3 separate regions of the Homo sapiens genome follow, and all the other regions are linked to region 2. Evidence: fine-mapped expression QTL. A gene starts in region 2. Each other region holds a variant in brackets. All regions are shown on one strand. Distances are from middle to middle.

Region 1 (4,237 bases), 110 kb before region 2:
GACAGGGCGATTACAGTCTCTCCTGAACCTCTTCCTTCTCGTCCGTGACTGAATCCTATTCACATGCTATAAGGACCATGGGCTTGTGGAATCCAACTTAGCTTCCTTTAGAACCAAAGGATGCCTCTGTGACACATGCAGAAATGACTTCCTTTTATTTTTCATTCAGTCCGTAGGAAGAGAACAGCTGCAAGAGAGAGAAAGAAAATGTACACGGTGGCTAGGTGGAGACGGCACCTGAAGAGTGAGTTTCATGTTTAGCCCCAACAGTTTATAAACATTCATGTGGTGATTAAAGATATTCCCCAAAACCAGAAAACACAACTGAGTCAGCTTCTGTTAGTGAGCATCACGCTGCAACCCAGGGGCCAGATGTCCTTGGAAAAGATCAGAGACATAACACAAATGAGTCAGCTTCTGTTAGTGAGCATTGCGCTGCAACCCAGAGGCCAGATGTCCTTGGAAAAGATCAGAGACATAAAACATCGCCGCCTCTGTTTATGCAACTTACTGAAGTTTACATGGAACCCCCGTGCCCTCCCTGCGTTTAACCTTCTATGCAAATGACAGAGACTGTCACTAGAGAAGGAGCAGTAGATTCTCATCCAGTTCCACAAGTCAACACGAGCATTGTCTCACTCCCCATGTTGACAGCTGCAGAGGATTTTCCATTCCCTGCCCCTACTGCTTCCAAAAACATCGGTTTTACATTGCCATAGCTAATGTTAACACCTCCTAGAATAAAGGGGGAATCACCACCGAGTGTCAGTTCTGGTTCAGACTGTGGAGTGAGGGTGTTATTCTTCTTGCATAAAATGTAGTGACTCCACATTGCACCAGTGGCTTGGTAAAAAAGACAAAATTTCTAGGGAATTAGTATCGATTATTTTTAACTATCATAACCTTGGCTTTATTGACACTTTGTATTAAACAGATCTCACTTGCCAAACGCCACAGGATGCAAGCCAACAGACGGGCCCAGAGAGCTCTCGTGAGCCGGAACTGTCACATAAGAAGCAAAACCACGAGAGAGAGAACACCACCCACATCCAACACAGCATAGCCACCCTGAAAGCCTCAGCATGTAAACTTTCGTGGCACCACCCTTTCTTTTAGAAATGTGTTTAGATTTTATAGACTTTTGCTAGACTTTGTTATGTAAGCTTTATGTACTGAAAGGTCTTAATTAAAGATTTTTAAATGTTGAGTAAAATGTTCACCAGTATAGTTTGTAATATATATATAACAAACCTGTCATATAATTTATTTTCTTTAAAAACAAGGCCCTTATACAAATTGCCCATGGAACTTTTATTTAGAATTTAAGGTCATTTGGGGCTTAGTGTCATATAAACAAAATTCTCCCAATTGCTAGGGTCCTCTTGGGGTGCTGCATTCCTGCGAACCATGATCATGCCAGGCTTTGTCAGTGATTGGAAAAACAGATCCTTCTCTGTCTGGGAGCTCAAATGCCTAGGGTGATGCCAGATCAAGTTTTCATTACTGAGTCATACATTCCTAAATTCAGTGTATCTCAGAAAAACAGACATACCTTTAACTCACAACAGTTTAACCTGACAAAGGTCTCAAATACTTCTATTGCAATAAAAATTGTGAAAAGGCTATCTTGCTAGAGATCTCTGACTCAGAGAAGAAAGTGAAGGTTGGGCATGGTAGCTCATGTCTGTAATCCCAGCACTTTGGGAGGTTGAGGCAGGTGGATCACTTGATGTCAGGAGTTTGAGAGCAGCTTGGGAAACACAGTGAAACCATCTCTGCTAAAAATACAAAAATTAGCTTGGCGTAGTGGTGCTTGCCTGCAGTACCAGCTGCTTGGGAGGCTCAGGCAGAATTGCTTGAACCTGGAAGGTGGAGGTTGCAGTGAGCCAAGATTGAGCCACCACATTCCAGCCTGGGTGACAGAATGAGACTCTGTCTCAAAAAAATAAAAAAATAAAAAATAGGCCAAATAAATAAGAGAGAGAGAAAAGAAAGTGAAGAATCTCAGTGACTGCAGCATTTTGGAACAGAATTTCTTTCAGGGAGGAATAGGGCACTGAGTATAAAAAGCAGCAGTGGAAAGAATTGCACAAACCCCTTTTCCATGCACTAGGTCTCTGGGTATAACTTTTATGAAGTTTAATTTCCTTCTAGTTGAATAAAGGTAGCAATGTGTTGCCTTTTACGTTGTGTATGAAGAGCCTAGAATGATGATCGACACCAAAAAGGAGTCAGTAATTTGATCCATTCACTCTTGGGTGCTGAGCTCCTCAGGGCATAGGCAGGAGGCACAGCTGGAAAGCCACCTGTGGGTGCACAGGTGCTGCTGGAGAGCAGAGTGAAGGAGGAAATAGG[A/C]CAGGTGCTAAGGAACATGCAGGTGGAGCTGGAACACAGAGTGCAAGAGGGAATAGGCCAGGTGCTAAGGAACATGCAGGTGGAGCTGGAGAGCAGAGTGCAGAAGGGAGTAGGTCAGGGGCTAAGGAGAACACAGGGGCAGCTAGAGAGCAGAGTGCAGGAGGGAATAGGACAGGTGCTCATGAAAACACAGGGGAACCTGGGGTTCAGAGTAAAGGAGGGAATAGGACAGGTGCTAAGCATAATGCAGGTGCAGCTAGAAAGTAGAGTGCATGAGGAAACTAGAAGAGATGCTAGAGGAACACACTGAGATAGGTCCTGAGGGCTCCACTGAACCATACTTATCACTGCGTTTCAGAGTTCTTTCTTCTCATGCATCTATTTAAAAGGTGATCATTTGTGCACACTTTCTATCCTGCAGTGTAGCCATTTTAAGTATTCCTAACTAAATTGAGAGCAATTTAAGAACAGATGTCTTCTTGCACACACATGTTTATAGCAGCAAAATTCACAATTACAAAAATATGGAACCAGACTAAATGCCCATCAACCAACGAGTGAATAAATAAAATATTATATATATTATATATATATATGTATACACACACACACACACACACACACACACACACACACCATGGAATACTACTCAGCCATAAAAAGTAAAAAAATAATGGCATTTGCAGCAACCTGGATGGAGTTGCAGACCATTATTCTAGTGAAGTAACTCAGAAATGGAAAAGCAAATACTATATGTTCTCACTTATAGGTGGGACCTAAGCTATGAGGATTCGAAGGCATAAGAATGATAAAATGGACTTTGGAGACTTAGGGGGAAAGGTGAGAGGGGGTGAGGGATAAGAGACTACACATTGGGTACAGTGTACACTGTTTGGGTGATGGGTGCACCAAAATCTCAGAAACCATCACTAAAGAACCTACGCAAGTAACCAAAACCACCTGTTCCCCAGAACTATTGAAATAAAATAAAATAAAAATAACAGATATCTTATTCCTTTGGTAGTCCCCAGGGCCTAGCTCAAGAATTTACTAAATGCTTGTAAAATATAAGAATAAATGGAACAACTGGGTAAGCACAGCTCATGCAGAGACATCCAGCCGTTTCAGAAGTGTTAAGGTTCAGAGCAGTGGGCCCTGCGTAGGTCCTGGGTCATGGCATTTCCAGGAGGCACAGCCGTTTCAGAAGTGTTAAGGTTCAGAGCAGTGGGCCCTGCGTAGGTCCTGGGGTATGGCATTTCCGGGGAGGCACAGCCATTTCAGAAGTGTTAAGGTTCAGAGCAGTGGGCCTTGGGTAGGTCCTGGGTCATGGCATTTCCAGGAGGTACAGCCATTTAAGAAGTGTTAAGATTCAGAGCAGTGGGCCCTGCGTAGGTCCTGGGTCATGGCATTTCCGGGGAGGCACAGCCATTTCAGAAGCATTAAGGTTCAGAGCAGTGGGCCCTGCGTAGGTCCTGGGTCATGGCATTTCCAGGAGGCACAGCCATTTCAGAAGCGTTAAGGTTCAGAGCAGTGGGCCCTGCGTAGGTCCTGGGTCATGGCATTTCCAGGAGGCACAGCCATTTCAGAAGCGTTAAGATTCAGAGCAGTGGGCCCTGCGTAGGTCCTGGGTCATGGCATTTCCGGAAGGCACAGCCATCTCAAGCCTCCTTATTTATGGTGCGTGCTCTAAACCTCACACAGCACAGGCTTTTCTTTAAAAACATCAAGGTGAAATAAACCACATATTAATCTAGGTGGGCAATTAGAGAACCCACACAATTTAGTTGTATAATAGTAAACTTCTGCTGCATATTTAAAGGAAAATAGATAATATACTTTTTTTAAAAAAAGTGCAAATTATTCCACTATTTCTGAATACTCA
Region 2 (4,237 bases):
GGAACCGCTGCCTGCACTGCTCTTGCATTTTATAAAAATCCAATGCTGTTACTTACATGCAGGAATGGTGCAGTCTCTGGTGTTGTGATAAAGTCTATGGAAGTGTTTGCTGCACTTTGGACTAAAATAAAGAGGGCCTGGAACACGGAAGAAGAAACAGATCATGAAGACTCACAGGTGAAAAGGAGCTCTGGGAGACGTGAGGAACGAGGAGAAAACTTACCTGTAAGGTGTTTTAGAAACTTGTCCTTCATCCTCAGATCTCGAGGAACAATTTCTGTTTCAGGGAAAAGAAAGTATTATATTACCTGAAGGACGCATTTTTTAAAAATGTGATCTTAAGTGAATGTTGAAGAAAATTGGAGCTCCATATTAGCCAAGTTGCTTTGCACAAAATAAAAAAGACTGGGGCCCTGGATTGCAACACACGACAGTGAAGAAGACTCAATATCAGGGACATTTATTTTCCTTGAAATAACAGTAACTGCTCCTGAAGCTCCAGGATTATGTCGGCTGTCTACCCCGTGGGATGCAGACAGAGACCACGAAGTTACAGAGGTAAGAAAACTGTTTTTTTTTTCTTTTAAACATTTAACTTCCAGTGAATAAGTCACTTTTAGGCACTTTAGTTTTAAGGACCTTGGGAATCAAATCCCACAACATTTCAAAGTTTTTAGAGAAAACCTGACCCTTCAAACAAAAAAATGGGTTACAGAACATTACTTTATCTAGATACATATTTAGAGTAAGGATTAAAAGACCACGTTTCAGTGAGGTGTAAATTAGTGGGAATATGCATGAACCTGGTTTGTAGGGTAAGAATCCCAGGGAAAGACTCTGCCAAGCAAACTTCTTCCACCAGGGTTCTCCGCACACAGTGGGTGGGGAGAACCCTGCAAGGGCGTTCTTCTTGAGTTCAGCTTTGTTTTTGCGTATTTACAGCCCTCTCCATCTTCACTCCCCCGTTCAGGGCTCCTGGCTGAGCCCCGACTGTGTGTGAAGTCACGCCCTCTGAAGAGGAGCATTCGCATCCACAGCTGACCCCCTAGTGAGTCTTCATTCACTCCTAACTTGACGCAGCCGGGATAAAACTGACCTTATCATGTTTGACCTGATTGTGTCACAAAAGCATTAGACGCTTTCATGCTTTCCTGGGAAATTCCCCGTGGGCCACCACTCTGGGCAGGGCCATGAAGGAGCCTGGATGCTTCCTTTTCAGTTGGGAAAGCTTTGCTGGAAATGCTTCCATTTCCAAAGTGACGGTTGACAGTTTAGTGTGGAAACCACCGACCCGCGCCGCAGCTCACGCGCGCCAGAAGGAGACCAGGCGCTTCTCCGCCAGGCCTCATGCGCGGACCTATTGCTGCTATTTTCTTTTTCTTAAAAAAAAAAAAAAAAAAAAAAGGAATCCTGCTGTTCAGTGGTCAAAATTGATGTCTCTTTTTGAAACGTGTTTCTCAAAGACAATTCTATTTCCCAGCAGCCCCGGCCCTCGGGCGCGCTCGGCCCCACTCACCCACTCGCTGCTCCGGCGAAGGCCCCAGCCCCGCCGCCTCCGCGCGGCCCAGGGCGCAGTCCCGCCCGAGGAGCTGCAGGCCCTTGTGCTCCGCCGAGTGGTGCTTCCGCAGCTCCTGGACGAGTTCCACCACCAGCCGCAGCAGCGCCTGTCCGTCCGCCGGCTCCCGGGGCTCCGCGCCCCCCCGGCCGCGCCCCGCCGCCCCCAGCACCAGCAGCAGCCCCAGGAGGAGGGGGTGCCCGGGTCCGCGCATCGTGCGCTCGGGGCCGCGGGGCTGGGAGACTCCGACACGCGCCGAGAGCTGGGCTCGCTGCGAGAGAAGGGGCGCGGGGGGCCGGAGAGAAAGTCAGCGGGGGAGGGGGACGGAGCGCGGGGCGGGGGAGGGGAGGGGAGGCGGGAGGAGCCGCTGGCGCTGGACCCGGCCCCTCACCTCCGCGGACCCCGAGGAACAAGCCGGCAGGTGAGGGAGCCGCGGTCTCCTCGACGATCACGCCCGAGGTCCCGCCCACGGGGAGCGACCGCCGCTGGTGCGGAAAGGAGCCCCCGGAACCCGCCCGCCCGCCAGCCCGGCCCCTCCTAACTTTCGCCCGAAAGGCCGCGTCCGCCGAGCGCGCTGCGCCTGGCGCGGGCGCAACTTTCTTTCCCCTTTGGAAGCCGCGGGTGCCAGGCAGCTCCCCGGCCGCGGGCGGACCTCGGAGGGGCCGCGCTCCCGCGCCTACCGCTCTCCAAGAAGGCGGCGCCGCGCGCCGGGCCCGGCGGCCGCGCTCAAGTTTCCAGCGTCGCCTTTGCGCGGTGGTCGCCGGCGAGCGCCGAGTCCCCGAAGCCCACGGAGGAGGCCGGGTGCGGACCCTCGCGCTGGCCCCGGCCGCGCCACGTGCTGGAAGCCCCTCCACCTCCCGGCCATGGCGCCCTCCCGCACCTGCCCGGCGCCACCCGGGAGCCACCTGCGCGTCGTGGCCGGGCCGGTTACCTGGAGCCGCCGGAGTCGTCGCCGTCTGTGCGCACGTCTGTCCCCGCGCCCCGAGCTGCGCCACTACTCCATGCCCGGCGGGCGGAGCGCACGGGACGCGGGGACTCGGCCGCTCCGAGCGCTGGACCCACGGCCGACCTGGGGTGCGCCGGCTCCGAGTCCCGCCTCAGACCTCGGGGAGCTTCTTATCCCCGCGCCCGCCGACGTCAGGCGGGTCCCCAAGGGCTCCGAGCGGGGCTTTAATTAGAAGCCGCTGAAGTGTTAGTACCCCCATGCGGATCTTCGTCAGTCCCCCCGCCTCACCTCGCTCTCGCCTCCCCCCGTCTCCCGCTCCCCCTCAACTCCGCCCCCGCCCCCGCCCGGTCCCCCCACCCGCATCTCCACCGCGTCTCCCCCTCGCCCGCGCCCCGTCTCCCGCGCCCCTTCCCTCCCCACCTTCCCCATCTCCCGTCTCCTCCTCTCCTGCCCCACCTTCCCCCACTCCCCGTCTCCTCCTCTTCCCCCTGTTCTCCTCCCCCCGCCCCTCCCCCAGTCTGTTTCCCTCCGTTCCTGTCACTTGTGACAGGATGAGAAGAAACGCCTTTACCAGGAACTCGGTTCTGTTTTTGTCTAAATGTAGATCTTGGGCTATTAAAAAGGGAGCTGCCTGATTGCTTCGACATTTAATAAGTCAATTAGAGTCCATCCGTTTTGGAGGGATCCGCTCTCCGGACCTCGAGGGGTCTGCCCCGCCCGAGCCCAGTCCCCAGGTTCGGGTCCCCAAGCCCTGGTCCCCGAGGCGGGGCGGCCAGGAGGCAGGAGATGGGCGGGTGAGGACTCTCCACGGCCCCCGAGGTGCGCACAGCTGACCACCCGAGGAGGGGCAGGACCTGCACCCCCTCCCCAGACCCCCTGCGAGAGGACGAGCGAAGGTCCCTCCCCGGCAAGGACCGCGCCATCTGCGCGCTCCTCTGCGCTGGACCCTCGGCCCGCGGGTCCCTCGCGCCCCGGCAGGGAACGCCCGCAGGAGGGCACTTGCCTCCCGGACTCGTCTTTAAGAAAGTTTGGCTCTTTGGCCGAAGCCCGGCACATCTGTGAAAGTTCAGCAATTTGCCTCTTTTATTTTATTCTTGTAAAATGTATTATCAATCAGTTGCGCACTTTCCCATTCGATTGGTGCTTTCTGGGCAAGAGCTGGACGTCTTCCAAGTCCGCGATCTGTTTGGGAAAGGTGTTCTGAGTGCAATCAGAGAGGCGGAGTGGGCGAGAATTAAAGGCCTGCACCATGATCGGGGCAGTCGCAGGACCGCGGCGGGAAGGTGCTGGCCCAGGCGCACGTGAGCGCGGGCGGTGCGGGCGGAAGGCTCCGCGCCCCGATCCCCCAGCTCCCGGAGAGGCCCCGTCTGCGCCCGTCCCCGCGTCCTTTCTCTCTTCCTGCACGGGGTCTGTCTCCTCAGGAGGAGAAAGTGTCCGGCAGAGCTGGGCGGGGAGGCAGCGTGGAGAGAGAAGATATGAAATGTGCCGGTTCCGGACCCCGCCCCACACCCTTGGGATCTGCGTTCTCTCCGCTCCCTTGAAAAACAGATGGTTTGATTTCACAGCGAGGCTTTTCTTTTTCTTTTTGCAAGCTACATGACTGAAATGTGAACATTTCTGCTAAAATACACTCAGGAAAAAGTAAAATTTTATGTCAAACAGACCTTAGGCACATAAAAGGAGGCATTTTTCGTTTCTCTCTTTCCCCTTCCCATGTCCAAGAAGACACTTGAGTT
Region 3 (4,237 bases), 140 kb after region 2:
TCTGAGTTTAACAGGAATTTTCAGAAAATAAAATAGAGATGAAATATAATTGTTAGTGGATCACACAGGCTTCATCTCATGAGAAACAACAGCTTCCTGTTTTTCTCTTAAATTCTCTGACCACCTAAAAGAACAGAGTGGGGCAGGACGTCCTCACACACACATCCTACGAGGACGGCTCCAGGAACCACAATGGGCGAGGAGGGCTCGGGCGGCCGCTGATTCTCATGACTCTGTGGGTCTCAATGCTCCATGAGAACGTAGCCCAGCTCATAAAAGTGACCGTAAGATCCGTCTCCTCACAGCGAAGACTGAAGCAGTGCCACCAACTGTCTATCTCTTGACTTCCTATTACTTGGGGAAAAAAAGTCTCCACATATTTAAGATGCTCCAAGTTGGGTCTTTTGTTCCACAAAGGTGAATTATTTGTAACTAATTCAAGAGGATAGAATCATTACATAAAAAGTAACCATTTTGAAATCTAAAAATATCAAACAATTTTTATAAGCATAACGTGAAGTAATCAGATAACCAAAGTCAGTACATTTGACTGCATAGATGTCAATTCACAAGCCCTGATCTGATGAAGGTCACCCATGCATGACGCTGGCTGGGGGCCGCACTGCCACACTACTCTGGGAGTATGAATCCATGTGGCCCTTTGCACGATCAAAAATCAATGTGCATGATCACCTGAGCTTGCTTACCTTCTCTTACCCTACGTTTCCATTCCTAAATACACACCTGAGAAAAATTCTAGCACACTTTTGAAATGAAAAATATAAATAAAAAGAATTGCTTTTAGAAGTATAATTTGTAATGATTTATACCGGTGAAAGATATCGGGACATCTCAGGATATAAAAAGAGAATATATAAATATTTTAAATACATTTACACAGTATAGTAGTATGCATTAGTGAAAAAGAATGGAGTATAGTTATTCATGACTTGGATAAATGTTAGAAACATAATATTGAGTGAAACGTTATCACTTAAGACTATATAAAATATAGTGTGTTTATAAAGTTCAAAAATGGCAACTTAAACAAAAATGAGTAATTATGGTATAAACAAGTCTAAGTCACATTCGAGAGGGGAGTCATTGTTGGGTTTGCTAAGCCTTAGGCTGAGGGGCATCTTTATCACCTTCCATGATTTTCATACAAACATTAAGACCCGATCATCATGCAATACATGAGGTCCCTAATTTAAAAGGTGTAAATGTGTTGTATTAGTATGGCGAGGCTAATGGAAGGCAGTATTCATTTTTTAATCTGCCTATTATTTTGGGGAGAAAGCCAAAAGAAAAACTACCTTTTGAATATTAGTCCTTCTCGAACTTGAATCTTCTCGAATGTAGGAACCTCCTGAGTATTTTGTTAACATTTGGACTCTGGTTCAGCAGGTCTGGGTGGGCTCTGAGGTTCTGCACATCCAGCCAGCCTCCAGGAGATGTTCATGTGCCACACTTGGACTCACCAGACTGTGCATAGAAGCTCTTCAGAACGTGGAGAATCCTAGCCCCTTCCCATGTGAGTATAAGGAACGGTGTTTAGTGAAAAGATAAAACTGGATCCATTCCTCACAGTGTATCCTAAGATAATTTCCAAATGGATCATA[T/C]TGAAATGCAGGAGATGAACCCCTATACAGAAACATATATCTATTATTTTATTCCCCATGACTCAAAATCCAGAGGCAATAGAGGAAATGTGGTAGGTTTCATTATATGGAAAAATATCTACATGGTAAAAAGCATAAGCTAATGATAAATGGAAAATATTGACTGACAAGTTATATCACACACGAAGGGTTGGCAGTCCATCTACATTAAGAACTTCTAAAACCACAGAACAGAAAGACCAATAAGCATATAAAAATACATTAAGTATATGAACAGACTGTTCATAGATAAAGAAATGCTTTTTTAAAAATACTGAACTTCATTCATTACAAGAAAAACACCAATTAAAACTAAACTAAAATAAAAGCATTTCTTTAAAAAAGTAGCCTCTTCTGTTGACTATAAGACAGGGCGTTCTTTTACAAGCTGGTGGGAATGCAAAATGCTAAACTGGTGTGAGTGGGAAGTTTTGCAATATCTGGCGAAATATTATATCATTTTTCTCTAGAAAAAGCAATCCTACCTCCAGGGATTTAGCCTTCTGAGCACAAATACTAGAAGACGTATGGGGCTCAATTTGCAATAGAATTGCAAGTAAGCAAGCTAGAAAACAGCCCGGCTGTCCCAGGCTCTGTCCTGGGTGTGAGATTGAAGAGGAAGCGATATGGCATTTTCACACAACATAAAAATATGCAGTTACAAAAATGAGTGAGAAATATCTCTAGCATATGTTAAGGGAAAAAGCAAGGTGAAGAAAAGCATGTAAAGTATTGGAAACATTTGTCCATGAAAATAAGAAATATACATGCTTATTTGCTTATATTAGAAAACATGAAATGATAAGTTGCACACACTATTCCCTGGAACCCGTCACCCCGTTTTTACAGCTATGGATCCATAGCTCCTCCAGCTTCACCCGTAATTCTCCGTTCATTTACTAGAGAAGAAATGTCAGGCATTCTATCAATCTCCTAGGTCTGCATGAGGAATCCCCGCAGACGAGGTGGCTAAAACAACAGAAATTCATTCCCCCTCAGTGCTGGTGGCCTGAAGTCTGAGATCAAGGTGTTGGCAGGGTTGGTTCCTTCCACAGGCTTTGAGTGAGAACCTGTTCCAGGCCCTGCCCAGCTCCTAGTGGCTGCCAGCCATCCTCGGAGCTCCCCAACTTGTAGACATGCCCTCCAGTCCCCACCTCAGCCTCCACACAGTGGGGCTCCCTGCATCCCCTGCACCTGAGTCCAAATTCCCTGTTTTTATCACATACAACTGGAGAGTCATGCTGGAATTAAGGCCCACCCTGACCCAGAGGACCTCATCTGAACTTTATTACACCTGCAAAGCCTATTTCTAAATACATTCACATTCACAGGTAACGGAGGTAGGTCTTCAATATATCTTTTTGGGGAACACAATTGTACCCACTCCAGACATCACGTTATTTCATCTGTACTTTTGTATATAGTTTAATTCTATCTTTTTTTTCTTGGTAGAGATAAGGTCTTGAACTCCTGGCCTCAAGTGATCTTACCACCTTGGCCCCTCAAAGGAGGGACTGCAGAAGCATTTAGCAATAGTTAATTGTTTAATAATTGTTGTTATTTGTTACTGTAGTATTATCATGTATCAGTAGCAAATTAAAAGTATACACTTTTTGAAGAATGTCATTCTTAATTTACTATTTTAAATTTACCATGTTTTCTTGCTCCACAGATAAATTGGCAATTATTCTTTCCTTGGCCTTCTTAAAGGAATGCTTAACATCTGATTTTGTTTTCTAAAAATTATCTTGTGGTTATATTGATACCAAGAGTCATTCACGATTTTGCAAGTGTGTTGGTGGTTTGTTTGTTTGTTGTTTGTGGGTCCACAACCACATATTCCCTTCCTCCTTCGCTGCATCCTTGCTTCCTTTCTAAAGGCACAAACAATCGTTCTTGGACTAGGTTCACTTCTCTCATCTTTCCTGTTTCATGCTCAAGATTTCCTTAAAAACAAAAGCACAGCGTGGCTTTACCATTTACGTTCTGTCTCTTTTCCAACGACCTCTTAACTCCCCTTTGTTCCTTCAGAGTTCCAGCAGCAGAGTTGGCTGGTCTGCTGCAGAAGCTGGGCCCCTCTCTCCTGGGCCCATATGGGATTCCTGCAGTGCTTGGCACCCATGGCCACTCACCTTTCTGCACCCTGCTCTACATCAAAGGCCATTTTCAGTTGATACTTATGAAAAGCTCAGTGATGATGATGATTTTCTTGAAATTATTTGTAAAGCAACAACTAATACTTGGAAAGTGATACATTTCAATTTTGAAGACACTGAAATTCAGTAAACTTTATTCAAATGTTATTGCATGACTTCAATTTGCACTTTCCAAACAAAAGTGTTACACCTAGCAGTTCATATATTTGACCATTTTTAATCCCTTCCTTCCTTCCTTTCTCTCTTTCTTTCTTTCTTCTTTCTTTTTCTCTTTCTTTCTTTTTCTTTCTTTCTTTCTCTTTCTTTTTCCTTTTTTCTTTATTCCTTTCTTCCTTTCCTTCCTCTCCTTCCTTTCCTTCCTTTCCTTACTTCCTTCCTTTCTTTCTTTCTCTTTCTTTCTTTCTTTCTTCTTCTTTCTCT

Alleles and levels. Positions count from the first base shown, and alleles are read on the strand shown. Sizes are in standard deviations (SD) of each study's normalised expression. Not every link is listed here.
As copies of C replace A in region 1, the expression in NK cells of the gene that starts at base 2,025 in region 2 goes up (moderate effect, 0.48 SD a copy in Gilchrist 2021).

The links. PIP is the estimated chance that this variant, and not a neighbour inherited with it, causes the effect.
Region 1: its variant is the best candidate, but not a certain one, in a credible set for the expression of ALKAL2 in NK cells (Gilchrist 2021, PIP 0.77).
Region 3: its variant is the best candidate, but not a certain one, in a credible set for the expression of ALKAL2 in whole blood (INTERVAL, PIP 0.71).

What each region holds. Positions count from the first base shown.
Region 1 is chr2:175,582-179,818 of GRCh38, forward strand. It overlaps LOC105373324 (a long non-coding RNA gene), which reads right to left. Exons shown (of 4, transcript XR_922689.3): 2 at 1-187. Among named protein-coding and RNA genes, the nearest start is that of SH3YL1, 86 kb to the right of the region's middle. The variant A/C (reference allele first, on the strand shown) is at 2,356.
Region 2 is chr2:286,067-290,303 of GRCh38, forward strand. It overlaps ALKAL2 (ALK and LTK ligand 2), which reads right to left and starts at 2,025. Exons shown (of 6, transcript NM_001002919.3): 1 at 1,947-2,025; 2 at 1,517-1,826; 3 at 224-277; 4 at 57-137. The coding sequence starts at 1,769. It overlaps LOC101927262 (a long non-coding RNA gene), which reads left to right. Exons shown (of 3, transcript XR_007085917.1): 1 at 1-558. RefSeq lists a silencer at 1,540-1,589.
Region 3 is chr2:430,670-434,906 of GRCh38, forward strand. No RefSeq gene overlaps it. Among named protein-coding and RNA genes, the nearest start is that of LINC01874, 60 kb to the right of the region's middle. The variant T/C (reference allele first, on the strand shown) is at 1,623.